Regions from separate parts of the Homo sapiens genome. Here regions 1 and 2 are each reported to be linked to region 3. Evidence: microRNA targets listed by miRTarBase, many of them from high-throughput screens and not tested one by one. Region 3 holds a microRNA gene; each other region holds the end of a gene's coding sequence.

Region 1 (3,000 bases), not on the chromosome of region 3:
CCTATTATGTGCCAACCATGATTCTAGCAGTGAACAAAACAAAAATCTCTACTTCAGGCAATTTCATCATTTATCTTATGAATTCTGATGTTTCTCCTTGTGGCTGTTGATACTCTAGTCTAAAAGTTAAGTTTTCCTGCATGAAACAAACAAGGAAATACAAAATTAGCCAGAAGCTAAAGGAATTTCATGTCCCTGAACAGGAAATTTAAAATGTTCTTTCACAGAGGACTGGAGTTAATATTGACAGGATGTTTAACGTTTTTATCAATGTCTTCATAGGACCTGTTCACTGTTCAAAAAATACACTTAATGGAGATTTGGCATCAGCAACCATTCCTGAAGAAAGCAGACTTATGGCCAAAAAACAATCTGAATCAGAAGATACTCTTCCATCCTTCTCTTCCTGAAGAAACTGAAGTGTCCAACTTCCTCTAAGTATTGCTATGCAAAAGCTGCTGTAATTAAACTATTGTTATAGGGAGTAGTTTTTTCCCTTAGGACTCTGCACTTTATAGAATGTTGTAAAACAGACAAACAAGAAAACAAACCACATACTTTTGAAGTGTATTTTATCTTTATATAGTTTGTTTGCAAGAGTATTTTCCTAATAACTTCACAGTATGAATGTGCATCTTTTTTTTTTGAACAAATGATGGTGTAACATTTTGACATCCATAAGGACAAATGTAGATATTTTTCTTAAAAACTCTGAGGGGACTGACAGCATGGTCAGGGTGTATTGTAGCTTATAAACATGAAATCTTATAAGGTTTCAGTTTGACAGAAGTGTGATATATGTAACTTGTGCCATGGACCAAATGGTCACTTTACCACAGCTAAAAATGAGTTACGATAGCAGCTTGATGGTGATTGTATTGTATTCCTTTAATCAAAAAGGAAACACAATATTCTAAGTATCTTTAGCCCAAATACCATGACATATTGAGCATCTTTAAATAACCAGACTGTATTGTCCTTCATATGTGAAGTTGACACTACTGATTTGTCAATACCAAATTTTGGGTTAAAGTGTTTAATTTTTATGTATTTATTTTCTTGTTGCCTCAAAAGATGATTGCATTCTAACTTTTGTGACCTACCAAATTTAAGATGTGTATACGTTGTTCTTTACGTTGTTCTAGAAAAGAGATTTTAATGCTGTAGTGACTTTGCTCACTTACACTAGAGAAATAAACAACTTTCAATGGAAGAGAATTTTAGTGCTTTTTTTTTCCTAAAATAGATATTAAGCTGCTGTTGTAAAGTATTGTTTGCAGCTCTTTCCAATATCTAGAGACATTTTTATTTATGAATATTTATACAAAAAGGAATTCTGTCAAGATGACTGCTCTATATCACTTGAGAATGGCATTATTTAATTAAAGAACAAATAGCATTTTTTGGTAGTGCCTGTCCATACCTATTGTCATTGTTTGCCTTGTAATCTGTTTTTTTGAATTCATTTTGGGCTGATAGTTTTGTTTAAGGTTTTGGATAAGGAGCACTTTAAAACAAACTGGTGTGTTGTTTTTAAGTTAATCATATGTTTAATAAATGCGTGGTTTTTGCATTCAAACACATCATATAATACATTGTATTTTTTACATTCATTGATATTCTGTCTAATCTTTATTAGGCACTAATATAATTCTAATGGATTTGAGTTTGTTTGTATATTTAGGCCTGCTGGTGAAGACACAAATGAAGCATAATTTTTGTTGCCTGTGAGCTTAGAATGGTGTGACCTATTTCATTTTATTTCAATTTATCTTGTAAGTTTATGTGGGATATTTTAAAATAATTAATATTTGGTATTTGTTTAAAAAACTGTAATTATAGGCCTTCCATCTTAAGTTTAAGATGGACATAAACAGTCTATACATTAATATGTGTTTGGGTAAACTGTATGCTACTTGAAGTGTTTGTAATTTTAAATAACACACAGGTCATCAGACTACTCTATATTCAGTGGAGTCTTTGCCTGCTCATAAGTTGTACTTCATATGTCTAATTTGAAAAAAAAAGTTTGATAATGTAGTAAGTTATGACGTTGAGCAGGTAATCAGGTTTTTCTTGTTTTTTTTTTTTTTTTAAATTTTGTAGTAAGAACTTGCACAGTATTAAGACCATGAAGGTCAGGGTGCTATTGATTGGGAGTTTTTTCTGGTAGTGAGTTTTTTTGCAGTAATAGGTTTATAAGGAAAACACCGTAACAAGCTTTTGAACTTATAGAAAATAATCACATCCATTTTCTATTGCTTTACCCAAATAGATGGGTTCGTGAAGAGTTTTCTGTGAATATTTTAAAAATACAATGCAATTATTTCTGGTTTGTATCATTTTTTCCCCCTTAAAACAGGTCCTTGAACAGGTTTGCGGTATCCCTAAGTATGTCTTTTGTTATGACTTGGAGCCACTTTTTGTTGTTATTGTTAGGAACCAAACACATCTGTGAAATCATTTTTTTTGTGGGAGTATAAATATATCTTGAATTATATCCAGGTTTTGATCAGTGAATTAGTAGCATGAAGAAACCTATAAAGCTTAAGGGAACCTTGCATTTTGAGGAGTCCTTTATTTTCAAGTGTGCCTGACTTTTTTGAATTTTAAGAAAAAGATGAACCATATAACAATTCTGTAAGAATTTTAGCTTGTCAAGTTGTTCTATACTTTATAGAAAAATTATTGGTTATTATTAGTTATTAGTAGTCCCTTTTTTTTGCTTTGTCTAGGTCATGGGGTTATTGAGAAACATGAAAAGTTATTGAGAAATTTGGAGGTTCTCTTGGCAGCCTATCAGTGATCTTCTAAGCAAAAGCAGTGCTTGTTTTTCATTTCAAGTGCTTGCTCACTATTCTTTGGGAATCGCAGGCCTCCATGACTAAAGGGATTTTGATACAATTCTTTTATAAATGAGCTGAATTTGAATTTTCTTACATCATATGGGATTATTGCATGATCTTCAGTCAGGAAAAATCCAGAAATGGATGCTATTGC
Region 2 (3,000 bases), not on the chromosome of region 3:
CCAGTGGGACAGAACATTGAAACCTTTAAAAACTCGAATTGTCCCTGATTCCTCCAAGCCTGCCTCCATGTCACATTATTTAAAAGCCTGGGGGGCACCTGTCCTACTTGCCTCTCTTCTACTTATCTGTAAATCTTCACTTTTCTTGAAATTGGTGAGAGATAAACTACAGGACAGAATGTCCCCTTACCTAGTAAGTCTTTGGCGAGGATGAACCTGATTGTTACAAGGGTTACACAAAGTCATGCTAATTCTATCTCCAAGTATCTTGTGCATCCCTCCTCTGCTCTCCATCATAACTGCTATTAGCCAAATTCAGGCCCAGTCATCTCCTATCTGAATTATTGTATTATCTTCTTCTTTGTTTTCAGTACCCTCTTTCTTGCCACCCTTTCCAATGCATCTTCTACCCTGCTACCTCAGTGATTATTCTAAAATAAATATATATGATATGGTTTAGCTGTGTCCCCACCCAAATCTCATCTTGAATTGTAGCTCCCATAATTCCCACATGCCGTGGGAGGTAGGTAATTGAATCATGGGGGCAGGTCTTCTCCCATACTGTTCTCATGGTAGTGAATAAGTCTCACTATATCTGATGGTTTTATAAATGACAGTTCCCCTGCACAAGCTCTCTCGTGTCTACCACCATGTAAGACGTGTCTTTGCTCCTTCTTCACCTTCCACCATGATTGTGAGGCCTCCCCAGCCATGTGGAACTGTGAGTCTGTTAAACCTCCCTTCCTTTATAAATTACCCAGTCTTGGGTATGTCTTTATTAGCAGCAATAGAACAGACTAATACAATATGGTTTATTACTCTAAAGTAAATATATGGTTTATAAATATATAGGAACCTCTGATTCCCAGGAAGGTCTCAGTAGGAACAAAATGGCATTCAAATTAAGTTGAGAAAATTTTTTCCATCACCCAAACTGGAACACAGTGATGCAAACATAGATCACTGCAGCCTCGAACTCCTGGGCTCAAGCTATCCTCCCACCTCAGCCTTCTGAGTAGCTGGGACCATGACTGGCTAATGTTTTTAAAGGTTTTCATAGGGACAGTGTGTTACTTTTTCTTTCTTTTTTTTTCTTTCTTTTAAAAAAAATACGGCCAGGGTCTCGCTATGTTGCCCAGGCTGGTTTCAAGCTCCTGAGCTCAAACAATCATTCTGCCTCAGCCTTCCAAAGTGCTGGGATTACAGGCATGAGTTATCATGTCCAGCCTCACTATTTTTTTTAGATCTCAGATCTTGAACTCTTGGGTTCAAACAAACCTCCCTCCTCCACCTCCCAAGTTGCTGGGATTACAGACATGTGCCACCATGCCTGCCTGGAAATTTTAATATAGAGATTATTTTAAAAGATATGGGCAGAGTGTAGGAAGATCATAGAGATAATGAAACACTCCCAGACTTGTAACCTTTACTATCCATAGACCTAATGAGGCAAGAGAATAAAGCAATTACTAAAGAGAAAAAGCAAGCACTGCGTAGAGGGCCACCTAACAAGAGCAATGACCTTCAGCTGAGTGACAAAGGCAGGTGCACGATGACTACAAAAGTAGAGATCTGGGGGAATAAATTATCTAATCTTACTCTCTTCCCACTCTCTGATCCCTTGCTAGTGCTCCCCAAGGGCCAAACCAAATGAAAGTCAGAAGGCAAGGTTGCCAACAGATTTTATCCACAGAGGTCAGGCTCCTAGGGCACAGAGCAGAGCAAAGATGATGGAGAGGATATATGGTGAGGCACACAAAAGGGATCCAGTTTGATCATGTCACCCTCCCATATAAAATCCTTCATTCTCTATCTTGATTAGAGATAATAGTCCTTGGCTGGGCACAGTGGCTTATGCCTGTAATCCCAACACTTTGGGAAGTTGAGGCGGGCAGATCACTTGAAGTCAGGAGTTCAAGACCAGCCTGGCCAACATGGTGAAACCTCATCTCTACTAAAAATACAAAAATCAGCTGGGCGTGGTGGTGCGTGACTGTAATCTCAGCTATTTAGGAGGCTGAGGCAGGAGAATCACTTGAACCCAGGAGACAGAGGTTGCAGTGAGGCAAGATCACACCACTGCACTCCAGCCTGGGTGACAGAAAGAGACTCTCTCAAAAAAAAAAAAAAAAGAAGACATAATAGTCCCATATTCCTTAGCATAACATAGAAGGCCCTTCATGGTCTGAGTCCCTTTGCCTGGGTCAGCAGGATGCCTGTTATTTCAAACCCTCCCATCCAGCACTACCAAACTATGAACTTTCATAACTCCTCCCTTTGGCATCAGCTCTTGCCTCTGCCAGGCACACAAATCTATACCGTGCCTGACTGATGAGATCCTATTTATCTTTCAAGAGAGCTCAGTGCTCTCATTCTGTGCAGCCTTCCCTAAATCCCCAAAGCAGAAATGGTCACCCCTGTGTAGCAGCTGCACCTTGTGTATGCTCTGGTGCTGCTCTTTTCTTACTATAGTATCATTTTCTTTTTGTCTGTCACCTAACAAATGGTGAGTTCCTAAAAGGAATCATATCATGTTCATCGGACACACTGCCTGATATGAAGCATTGCTAAAGAAGTATTTGATGAATCGACAGTGGCCTTGCCAGCTGGCACTCTTTGTTTTCTCTCTTCTACCTACATTCTTGTCTTCTGCCAACATGATAAATTACCTCAGCCTTGCAAACAAACAAGAACAGTCCGCCAACAGCTAATGTTATAAGTAAAGGACAATCCAAGTGGCAATTAGAAGAAATAGAACTATACAGTCCAGTACTTGCACAGGAGCGAAGTACACTGGTTAAGAGCACTAACTTGAGAATGAGAACTCAACTTGTTAGCTATGAAGTCTTGGCCATGTGACTTAGCCTCTCTAAGCCTTAGTGTCCTCATCCGGAAAACAGTGGTCATAATAGGGCCTACCTTACTGTGAACATTAATGAGAAAATGCACGGTGTTTGGTCCAAAGTAAGTTAACTACTAATAGCTGCAGAATCGGGGACA
Region 3 (3,151 bases):
GAGACGAGGGAAATACACAAAAGACACAAATCTAATTTTTAAAAATCATATTGTTAAATGAGACTTAAAATAGAATATTTAGTTGAAATTGATGCTAAAAGAAAAACGATTCATCTGGAAAGAAAGGTATTTAAATTCAACAGAAATATGAATTATCTAAGTGTAGGATCATAAACTGTCATGAACTAATTAGTAAAAATGAATTTACTCTATTATTTTTATTCTAGATAAAAAGTACTTCTAAATTTTAACTTATCTGTTTAGAATGAATGAACACATTCAACACAGTCAAAAATCGACACATGTATTACTGATGCGGAGCAGTCCAGGAATTAAATTTAAACAGTTTTAGGAGCAATAAATAAAACTCAGATGTTTGACCACTGCCATAACTCATTCAAATATTCAATAGAAACTCATCACAGAGTGAGGTCTTACACTCCATTCACTAATCCAATAAATAGTTAGTGCTCATTATGAGTAAGGCATTGGAGGGGATACAGTGAAAAATAAAACATGGACTTTGCCCTCAAGGGGCTTACAGTCTAGTGCGGAAAAAATCAGCAAGCACATAAATAGCCATAACATAAGGTAGAAAGTGATGTGTCATAAGGAAAACGCAAATAATGTGCTATGGGAGCTATTAACTCTAGCAGACATTTTTTATTATAGTGTCTAAGCAGCCAATATAAATAGACCAATGATCCATTTGAAAATTAAGGTCTGAATTTTGTTAATCTATAGATGATAAAAAGCTTTAATATTAATGCAATTTAAGTCACTACCTACAATTTTCTTAAAATGTTTGAACATGGAGTGACAACCCATTAGAAATACCATTTTGACATTGTTCATAAGCAGATACAAATGGAATAATCTAATAGGGCTGAAATGATCATTTTAATGTAATAAAGGCCCAAATCAATGATCCAAGATACTCATGACACATTACCTTCTTGCACACAAATTGGCTCAATCAGGTTAAAGTGATGAAGAATTCCTCGACGGCTCAAGTGTGCTCCAAGGAAAGCTAGAAGGTTGTACAGTTAACTCCCAGGGTGTAACTCTAAACCATACAACCTACTACCTCAACCCGGATGCACACAGCTTCCAATGTTGCTTCAAACTCCTTATCATATCTTCAGTCAGCTCCTCCAAATATGGCAGCCATACACCTAAGGGCTTGGCAAGGATATAGATATAATATTCTAACATTTTACCAGTAAACTTTGCTGCTAACTGTTTCTCATAGGACTAACCTAAACACTTGGGTTTCCAGCATAGGTCACGTAAAATGTCTTCTGACCATCTAACCTGCCATAGTTCTAGTCGCAATTAATAGTAAAAGTCAATTGCATTCAGCCTCATTTTTTCAGGAGAAATAGGCTCAATAAAAACATATAAATCCAATGGTAGTCTTTAATTTTCTTACTGAAGTTGAAGAGGTACACTAAGCACTACAGTATGCACTGAAGTTTCTGAACAGAATCTATTCAGATCCTGGTCCAAACCCTGCTATAAAGGTTCAACTTTCTTATGCAATTTACTGTACATGGAATCGAACTTGAATGGGTGTGATATAAACGCTTCCAAGTTGTTGAGAATTGAAGCCTGCCTTGTAAGACAGACAATGATTAAAATAAACATTAAAAACAAAGGAAAATATAATGACTTCAAAAGTATATAATCAACTGGAGTTTAACAGGATTTTACTGAACTATTGTTGAACGGCACTGTGTATAGCATTTTGTCAGATTACCACACTGACACAGACCCATAGAAGCGAGCTTGTGCGGTCCACTTCACCACAAGATCGGATCTACGGGTTTATGCCAATGGGCAACATCTTGCATGGGCCCCCTATTAATATAGAATTTGTTGTAAATATCTGATGCAATTAAGAGTCAAAAATAATATTGATCCTTTAGTATAAATGTTTTAAATGCTGAGTTCTAAGGATGCATATTCTCCATTAAAGGCCTTCATAAATATTCAAAACTAAATACAAATTTATATGCATGAGAATTTAAAAAGTAGTTTATTGAAAAATTTTTCACGAACTGCTTTTGTTTCAATAGTAAATATTTTGGAATTAAACTATTCTAATTGAGTTTTAAAAGAAAAAAGAATCCATACATGCATGTATGAATTATATAATTGTGAGGCATGAATGTAGTATTACGAGCCTATAATTAAAACCAAATTAACTATTAAGTTAATTGTGTATGAGTTAGACCGTGCTTATTTTAATTTTTATAAAACTAGTTTAGTTACTGGTTTCAAGGAATTGGTAACATTATAACTTTCTCATAAAACAGTAAGATCTTGTTCACTAGCTAGAGAATACAGGAAGTTATTATCAGCCTTAAATATATACATCTGTGTCTATAGTCGGAATGGTGCTAAAATTTACAATATTTGGATGAGTTAATATAAAACTAAACTAAATGGCACGATAATGGCATGATTACTAATACTCCACACTAACATTTATACTCCAGATGTATTACATGACATAGGATATCTTCTTTCCTAAATAAAATATATTTAAACTTATTGTTCAAAAAAGATACACTTAAAATGCATGGCTACATACAACTCTCATCTGGTCAACAGGTTGGGCAAAAATAAAATATTACTAAAAAATGTTTTAAACCACCAGACAACAAGCAAACACACAAACGAGTAAACATAAAGCCAGCCACATACACGTTTTTTTAAGATTGTAAACTCAACTGCAACAAAATGATAAGTTGTACAATCATTAATCATTTCACATCTATAATCACTTAGCATTTCCTAATTATATCTTTATTGTGTAAAATAATACTACATACTAATTGCTTAGTGATTTTGCATATTTTGAAATAAATACGTTTTATAGCCTTTATATAGATCATGTGTTCTACATAATTTTAAACCATTATTTATTCTTAAATTGTCCTCATAATTATTAAAAACTATAGTAAATAATCAACAATCATACATTCAGTTGTAGTAAAAATATTTCAACATATATTTATAAATGCAAATGTGAAATAAGAGGCAGCATTGGGTTTAGTTTTACCATAACTATAAGAAAGCATGTTTTGGTTTCATTGTCTTATCAGGTCATGTAAAAAAGATGAAAAAGCATGACCTTATTCCCCTC

Evidence for each region. Region 3 holds the annotated microRNA hsa-let-7c-5p (UGAGGUAGUAGGUUGUAUGGUU, at 1,070-1,091, opposite strand). A microRNA usually pairs through its seed, bases 2 to 8, with sites in the 3' UTR of a target mRNA and lowers its output. Matches are read on the target gene's strand: a 7mer-m8 pairs with bases 2 to 8, a 7mer-A1 pairs with bases 2 to 7 and ends in A, and an 8mer does both.
Region 1: the mRNA of PLEKHA3 is a reported target of hsa-let-7c-5p. The part of its 3' UTR that is shown has no 7-base or 8-base seed match.
Region 2: the mRNA of FMO4 is a reported target of hsa-let-7c-5p. Seed matches in the 3' UTR shown: 8mer at 415-422.

What each region holds. Positions count from the first base shown.
Region 1 is chr2:178,503,478-178,506,477 of GRCh38, forward strand. PLEKHA3 (pleckstrin homology domain containing A3) reads left to right here. Exons shown (of 8, transcript NM_019091.4): 8 at 283-3,000. The coding sequence ends at 410. Among named protein-coding and RNA genes, the nearest start is that of TTN-AS1, 18 kb to the right of the region's middle.
Region 2 is chr1:171,341,626-171,344,625 of GRCh38, forward strand. It overlaps FMO4 (flavin containing dimethylaniline monoxygenase 4), which reads left to right. Exons shown (of 10, transcript NM_002022.3): 10 at 1-459. The coding sequence ends at 214. Among named protein-coding and RNA genes, the nearest start is that of FMO4, 29 kb to the left of the region's middle.
Region 3 is chr21:16,537,778-16,540,928 of GRCh38, reverse strand. It overlaps MIRLET7C (microRNA let-7c), which reads right to left and starts at 1,101; the gene lies at 1,018-1,101. All of the region lies in intron 6 of MIR99AHG (mir-99a-let-7c cluster host gene), which reads right to left. It overlaps MIR99A (microRNA 99a), which reads right to left and starts at 1,840; the gene lies at 1,760-1,840.